Homo sapiens: one gene and its partner. The protein of the gene in region 2 purifies or fractionates together with the protein of the main gene of each other region. This does not show direct contact. Each region holds a gene or a part of one and is shown on either strand. Other genes may lie near its edges.

Region 1 (4,249 bases), on a different chromosome or scaffold from region 2:
CAGGGTTTCACCGTGTTAGCCAGGATGGTCTTGATCTCCTGACCTCATGATCCACCCGCCTTGGCCTCCCAAAGCGCTGGGATTACAGGCGTGAGCCACCGCGCCCGGCCCTCACATGCTAGTTTTTCAACAACTGGGTGAATAAGCAACTGCTCAGAGCAATGAGGTTCTGTGTGCGGGGAGCAGCGAGGTGGGAGAGCTGCCCTGAGGAGGAGAGGAAGGCTGACTGCTCCCATAGGACGACTGGTGAGGACCCAGCACACTGGGGAGTGGCGTGGGAGGGGTGGAGGGGCCCACCAACTTGCATCTGGTCCCTGGGCTGCTCACCCTTCCCTGAGGCGCAGACAAGCCTGGCTAAAGCACCCTGTCCCCGGCCCAGACCTCAGTGCAGGTGGCAGGGTGGGGGCGGGGTCTCACCTGCACGCAGCTCCTGCAGCCTGTGCAGACACTGGCCCACCATGGCCTGCAGCCCCTCCAGCGTGAGCAGGCAGCGGTACTCCTGCATCCAGTCCATGGGGGCTGCAGAAGAGTCAGGGAGAGCAGGTGGGGCCCGTGGCAGTCTGGAAACCCTCCCTGCACTGGCCCTCCACACTCCTCCTGATACAGACCCAGGACCCACTGACCTGCCGAGAGCTCCTCCCTCATGCGCAGTCTCAGCAGCGAGCAGGCCTTCCGCAGGCGCCCCGCCTCCGCCTCCACCTCCACAGCACTGAGCCTGGGCTGGGGCCCGCCTGACTGGATATGGGTCAGGAAAACTTCCCTGCAGCCAAAGCCCCTCTGCTCCCACCAAGAACGGGGCCTGGGGAGTGGCCCTGGCCATCCCACGCCAGCCCCTCCTGGGGCTGCTCTGCAAACCTGCCAGGTTCAGAGCTAGAGGCCCCCAGGGCTCCCACAAGCCCAGCAAGGATACAGCTGTCTGCATGTTCTGGAGGAACTGGGTTTTGGCAGCGGCGGCATCCGTGGAATCACTGGTCTGTGTGGAACTGAGCTGGGCCCACAGGCTGGGGTGCACACGTGGGGTGCACAGAGGAACCACAGAGGGACACGGTTATTCCAGCCAGTAAGCTGGGCCTTGGGAGGTAGGCAAGGGCCAGGGTGGGGACCCCAGGCTGGGCGTCTGGCTCTGCTGAATGCCAGGAGGGGCCTCCAGAGGCCGCAGGGAACCAAGAGGACACTGACTAGGACAAGGGGACAAAGCTGACCGGCTGGCAGATTTTTAACATCGACAGTGATCCCACTCAGCAAAGAGGACAAAGAGACCCACTGGAAAGTATCTCGAACCTGTCCCCGAGCTGGTGATGCCTCCCGGTTCTCCCCTACCCCCGTCCAGCCAAAGACCTCAGCCTCACCTCGAGTTCTGGGAAGCTGCTTTCCTGAATGCCGCAGGCAGCCGCAGCAGGTGCCTGTCGGAGAAGCCCGTGTTCAGAGGAGCATCGCCTTGCTCTGGGGTCTACAAGTCCCACTTCCTGCTCAGAGCCCAATCAGGGATGAGGCTTCTTGCCCCTCTCCCACACCCGACCCCACCAAGGATGAGCCCCCTTGGATAGGGCTTCCAGAGTGGCCATAGGAGAAGCATCGTCCAGTGCTGCCCCATTAGAGAGAAGAGGGGGCCCTGTGAGCGGGGCCCTGTGAGCAGATCCCACGCCCTCCAGAGCCCATCTGGAGCCTCTGGCCTGGGCAAATAAGGGGACAGCCACAGAGAAGAGAGGAGGACAGGCTCCAGTACTTCCCTGACCTGATGGTGCCAACCTGGACACCACCACACAGCTGCTTCATTCTGCCAGCTTCTGAGCATGAGCCTCAGGGGTATGCCACAGGGCTCGATGCCCTGCCTTCCCTGTCACCCCAAATCCCAGGCTCCTTGCTAGCCAGGGTCTGAGGAGGCAGAGACAGAAGTCCCTCCAGTGAGGGTCCGGGAAACCTACCCCTTCTCCTTGAGTGTGAAGGCTTCTGGGGCCTGAGGAGCAGCGGATGGGGCCATTTGCTGGTCCCTGAGGCCCGCCCCAGGCCTGGGGGTTCGGGCTCCCATCCCAACACGGGTCCCATCCCCCACTGACAGCAGCCGGCGCTCAGGGTGGCCCTTGGCAGGCACCGTGGTCTGGCGGAGGCCCTTGGTGGGTCTCGTGTCTGAAGCATGGCCACCAGCTTGGCCTGGGGAATGCGGTGGGGCGGAGGCTGTCGTGCCAGAAGAGGTGACAATGGACCTAGATTTCAGGCTGGGGGCCTTGTCTCTCTCTCCGGCCTTAGTGATGCCTCTTCGAACTCGTACAGCCTTCTCCAGTGCCTGGGTCAGAAACTCCAACTCTTTGAGGTCTTGTGGACTGGGTGTGCATGCTGTGAAAGCCAAGAATTATGCAGGGATCTCTCCCCACTGTCCCCCAGGAGGGTTCCTCACAACTGCACGCCAGCAGACAGGCCAGAGCAGCACCTGGAGAAGGCGGGTGGTGGAGGTTTACCTGGAAGGGGGTCCTCTCCATTAGTTTCTGGCCCTGGAGGTGGCTTCAAAGCCCGGGTCCCAGTTGGTTCCCTGCAAAGACACGGGCAGCCGTCGCACGGCCAGGAGGCAGGGCCCAGCCCAAACAGACCCGAGGGGGCCGCCGGGCCCCGCGGCAGGCCCCCAGCTCAGAGCCTGCAGGGTAAGGAGGGTGGCACTGACAACCCACAGCTCCGAAGTGGGCGGCTGCGCCCGGTCTCCCAGCCCTGGGCGCTCGGGGCGGGACTCTGAGGGCCCGAGGGAGGTCTGGCCAGTGGGTCCGGGGTCCGCGTACCAGGCATGCAGCAGCCGACGGCAAACGCGCAGGCTCTGCTCCAATTGCAATTGTCGCTGTGCGCAGGCGTCCAGGGCGCCCTGCAGCTCGGCCACCAGCCTGGGGGACGCACCGGCGGCTCAGCACCTCGGCCAGCGTCGGGCCTCGGGCCCCGCGCCTGGCTACCGGCCCGCCCGCATCCTCCCACCCCCTCCTGCCGCGCAGGCCTCACCGGCGCGAGCAGCCCGCCGGCAGCATGAAGGCGGCGGCGTCTCCTTGCAATTTGCCGCCTCTGAAGAGCCACGCCCCTTCCGGGAGGGAAGGCCGCCCCTTCCCGGCCGGGCTGCCCAATCCTGAACCGGGGCTCAGGGGCCGCCCCCGAAGCTTTCTCTCCCTCCTTGCGGGCAAGCCTCAAGCCCCGCCCACTCCTGCCTCCCAGGTCTGACGGGGACTCCGGCTCGGAGCTGGGCCCCCGAGGCCGCCAGGGAGGTGACTGCGGGCGACGCCGGGATTTTGGTTTGGGTAACTGGGTAGATGGGGGCGCCATTATCGCGCTTCTCTTGCAGGGGGCCGGTGAAGGTTATACGAGAGGCTCCATCTGTCCTTATTGAAAGTGCTCTTAACGCAGGGACCAGCCGTCTTGCTGACGCCTGGGCCACCGAGCACAGGGACAGGACGGGGTTGCTGGAGGTGAGGATTCCGCGTGTCAGGGGCGGGGATGAAGGAGGAGAAAGTGTTCACTTTTGGACATGTGACGTGATAGCACTGGGCAGAGGGGAGGAAGCTCAGACCTTGGAGCAGTGGGCCAGGCGAGGTGGCCCCTGGTGGGGCAGGGGACGGGTAGGGACAGATCACGGGGCCCACGCAATGGCCAGGGAGGTGGAGGAGCAGTAGGACAGTGTCACAGAGGCAACAGGAGGCTGTCACGGGAGGGAGTGGGTCACAGGCCAAGTGCTGCTGAGGCCTCGGCGGTGTACACAGCACAGCAGGGGGGCGGGGGTACAGGGCCTTCGGTGATGCGGGGGACACCTGAGGGAGGAAGTGAGGAAGGCAGCAGGGCCCCATGTAGTTGGTGTTAACAAGAATAAACAATTAGGGGGCAAGAAATCCCAGGCGGTAGCTGAAAGAAAAACAGAGCCTGGGGTTGCTGTTTAAAGATGGGACAGGTGAGTCCATTCCATAGTCGTTAATGGGAAGGTGCCATCGCAGAGGGGAAGGAGGGCACAAAGGGAGTTGTCAGGGAGGTTGGGACCCAGGCAGCTCTGGCCCAGCGCTCCGGGTGGGCCCCTCCATCAGCGGTGGGGGAGGGTGACGGTGGCCCTGCCTCCCTGGAGATTCTCTGTGAAGGAGGAGGCAGGGAAATGCTCAGTCAGCAGGTGGGTGATGCAGGAACCCACCCACCACAGGCAGGCGGGGCCAGGTCCCCCTGGAGTGGTTTCCTCCTTCAGGTGCAAGCTGGGAGAAAGCAGAGAACTGACTCCATGCAGAGTTGGGATTAAGAG
Region 2 (3,812 bases):
TTTCAAACTGGGTTCTGAACTATTAGTAGGCTATGAAACTAATGAACAGATTAGTACTGTTTTCTTAAATGAAACAGTAGAAAATAACATGTCAGATGTAGTATGAGTAAATAACATTTTCTTAATATATTTTTTCATGTGTGTATGCTGCATTGTGATATATAAAATGTATTTCATACTATTCTGGTTAAAAAAAACTTTAAACACCAATGTTCTAATCCATGCAGATAACTATTAAAAGGCTATGATGCTAAAAATACTAAGTCAAAGTGAGGGAGATTCTTGGGGTGATCTTTAATGAGAAGGACTTTCTAAGCGTCACAAAAAAACCAGAGCCATTACAGAAGAGACAGTTTTGATTTCATTAAAAATAAACAAAACTTCTATATATACTTAAAAAAACCCATAAAAAATAACAAGACAAACTTACAAAAAAACCCTTCAATACATATGATGGGAAGGACTAAGTTTCTCTAAGAAAGAGTTCCCACAAATCAACAACAAAAAATACGAATAATGCCACCACGAAATGGGCAAAGGATAGAAACATTTAACTCATAATAAAAGAAATACAAATTGCAAATAGAAGTAAAGATGCTCAACCTTTCTTCTAATTAAGGAAATACAAATTAAAACTAAATACAATTTTGAATATAATAGATTTATGTCTCATGATACTCAGTATTGGTGCTAGTGTAGGGAAATAGAAACTCATACACATTGTTGCCAGTAAGAAGCACTGGTGCAATATTGTAGGAAGGTATATAGGTAATATCAGCCAAAATTTAAAATGTACATATGCTTTGGTCCTATCTTTTTCTTAGGAATACTGTCTAAAGCTATAGTGGCACAAATACAGAAGTATTTGTCCCAGACTTTCACTGATGATTGGATGTAAAAACTAAACACCATAAACACTTAATACCCATAAATAACAAACTCACTTTAAACTGTATAATTGATTCTATGACAGAGAGCTGATATGGAAAGATGTCTGAGAAAGAGATAAAGTGGAAAAGTTACAGTATAGTATATATTGGATAATCTTGTTTATGTAAAAATATACATACATGCTTTGATAGGCATAGAATATATCTGAAAGAACAGACATAAAAAGACCCTGCAAACCTGATCATCTGTAAGGACAGGGAGTAGGCATTAGATGTGGGGAAAAAAGAACTTTACTTTTAACCTTTAGTATTAATATTTATTTTTGCTATTTTAAGTGAATTGTAAGTATGTTCTTCTGAGATGTTGGGTAGTAAAGGTATTTTTTAAAAAGGTATAACGAACTATAAATCAAATAAAAAGCTAGCTCAAATTTGCAGGTTAATTATACTAGCACAGAAACAAATTTGTTTCTTAACCGATGATTATGAGGATCTTTTAAAGACATGGTTACACAGCAATTTTAACTTTTAATCTTAAAATGCTATGTCAATGAATAATATGTATAAAAATCAACTGTACATACACCTAACTTGCTGAATATAAAATCTTAATCTCAGGTTGGAGGAAAAAAGTGTGACCATTTTGTTCTTTTAAAATTTGCTAAGCGTATTTAAAAATCAGCAAGTTACATTCTGTTTCTATTTTTACAGAACAGGGGAGCAAAATACTTCAGTTCTAAGGTATAGACTTCCCTGGGGGAAGAAAGCAATGCCAATCATTTATTTTTACTTCAAGTTGATTAATTGCCATGTAATAAATGATCTAAAGGAATTGACTAAACTAGTTTCCTTTTTTTTCTCTTTTTGGAGACAAGAAAGGTTTGAAGATGGTTAAAGAAAGGGTATTAATATCCTTTGGCAAGCACACATCATGAGCACGTCAAAAATGCTTCACTCTAGGAAATAGGACTGTACAGGCAAACTCTAAGGAGAAAGTCAGCATTTCTCAAAAGCTCATACATCCTGAAAAGTATCTGAATGTTCTGTAAAAGAAACTAAAGGTACAAGAAAAAAAATTTTCCAGTATAGTTCTGTTGACTCTTAAGAGGGCTTACATTAAAAAAAAAAAAAAAGAAAAGAAAAGAAAATAGTGACATAATTCCACAAAATTTTAAGATAAAAAGGTGTATGTTTATATACTCAAACTACACACCCTCCGAATAGTTCTATCTTTATCAAGCACAGGTCTAAAAACAAGACTTACGTTTGCAAAATGAATTCCCACTTATCCTTTAACACTGTTACAGGCAAATGAGTGAAAAATTTTACCTCCTCCCATGGAATGTATTATAAAGAAACACTGCAAGCAATCACAGTGCTCTGCCGACTTTCTGAATTTCTCTAAAATCTGGTCTTGGTAAAGACTGCCGAAAACTTTGTGACCCACGGCCCTGAAAATTAGAATATGGATTTTAAAAATTCCTTGCATTTATTTTTTTATTTGATTAGTTCTAATCTAAATAAAAGGATTTTAAACAAATTTGAAAAGTATTCTTATTGAGCTAAGTAAAGTCTATTCTTGTTTCATGTAAATAAATCATACAATATCCTGAAGATACTAGATAGAAAACTTAACAAATATTCAGTATCTATAATCCTCAAATATCTGGATAAGTAAGCTCATTAGTAGTGAATATTAAACTATGATTTTCTAAATTCATCTTAACCTTCTCTTAAGGTACAATTCCAACAAAACAAGATTGCAGTTACATAATTTTTTCTTCTCTCCATTTAAGGCAAACTCTGAATTGTAGTGGATTTTACATACTAAAAAGCAAAATGTGGTAAACTACAGAGACACTGAAAATCAAAAATTTAAACAAACCTATTCTGGTTTCATATATGAGAAAAAAAAGGTCACATCATGTTATTAGATGAAATGGTACATGGTAGAAATTGATAATCATGCAGCTCTGCAAGTCTTTTTAAGTTGTCCAAATTTGCAAATATCACTATGATGAATTAAAACAAAAGATTTTCCCATAATATGCATTTCAGGTATAACTCAAAAGTTACATAATAAGTTATACAACAATTAGTAAAAATGCAGTTAGGTGGTCAGATGGGCTCACTTACTAAGTGACTGGTTCTCTGGGAACACAAGATTCAAATTTATGCCTTAGTAAAATTACATATTATTCCGCATTATGAACCTGAGGGACTGGCTGCAAATAGTGAAAATAATGAATATGAGAGATTTGCAAATAACAAGGAGCTAATTTCTAAAAAACAGCAACAGTCTCAATGTGAATTCTTAAGTAATCACTGTTGAAGCTTTTTTCACAGTAAAGAGAAGAGACCATTATATACTCAAGGGCCTAAACAGCCTTAGGCTCAGCTTGAATGCTAGGATACTGGTCTGGCTTGCATCTCTACCAATTGTATTACATCTGACCAATTGGACAACTTGAGAGTGAGTCAAATAACATAGATAACAGTTAATGAAAGTACTTAAAACATTTGTCATTATTTAATGTTCTTCAAGAATTTATGAAACGGAATTTAGCAAATTAATTTTTCATAATTCTTCTTTTTCTTTAAAAAAGTTAGAAAGAACTAGGAGTAAATACAGGTGGCTTCCAAGCCACTATTTATTAAGGTGGTGGGCTGAAAGGCCTAGCATTATGTGGCAAATTACATCCTGTTTCGTATCAGCAGAATCTCACAATGAAGAAAGATTGCTCATTTTTTTCAGAAGATATTCAATTTTTACGCTGTGTATTCTCACCAATTATTTCCTGAGCCAGAAATATCAGTGATGAGCTGTTTCGTATCAAATACATCTCTCAGTGGTCCCTGCAGAATTTCATTCACTACCCCTTCTTCCATATCAATCAAGACTGCCTGAGAAAGAAAAATAAA

What was found.
Region 1: the proteins of TUBE1 (region 2) and TEDC2 purify together in Homo sapiens (affinity purification with mass spectrometry; 2 studies listed by BioGRID and IntAct, with this or other methods). This does not show direct contact.

Annotation. Positions count from the first base shown.
Region 1 is NC_000016.10:2,458,901-2,463,149, reverse strand, and holds the start of TEDC2 (tubulin epsilon and delta complex protein 2), read right to left. Parts: upstream 3,042-4,249; 5' UTR 3,006-3,041; coding exon 2,980-3,005; intron 2,868-2,979; coding exon 2,769-2,867; intron 2,528-2,768; coding exon 2,457-2,527; intron 2,335-2,456; coding exon 1,926-2,334; intron 1,404-1,925; coding exon 1,350-1,403; intron 1,002-1,349; coding exon 911-1,001; intron 736-910; coding exon 624-735; intron 520-623; coding exon 418-519; intron 1-417. UniProt on the Homo sapiens protein: Acts as a positive regulator of ciliary hedgehog signaling. Required for centriole stability.
Region 2 is NC_000006.12:112,077,414-112,081,225, forward strand, and holds part of TUBE1 (tubulin epsilon chain), read right to left. Parts: intron 3,795-3,812; coding exon 3,679-3,794; intron 2,342-3,678; coding exon 2,220-2,341; intron 1-2,219.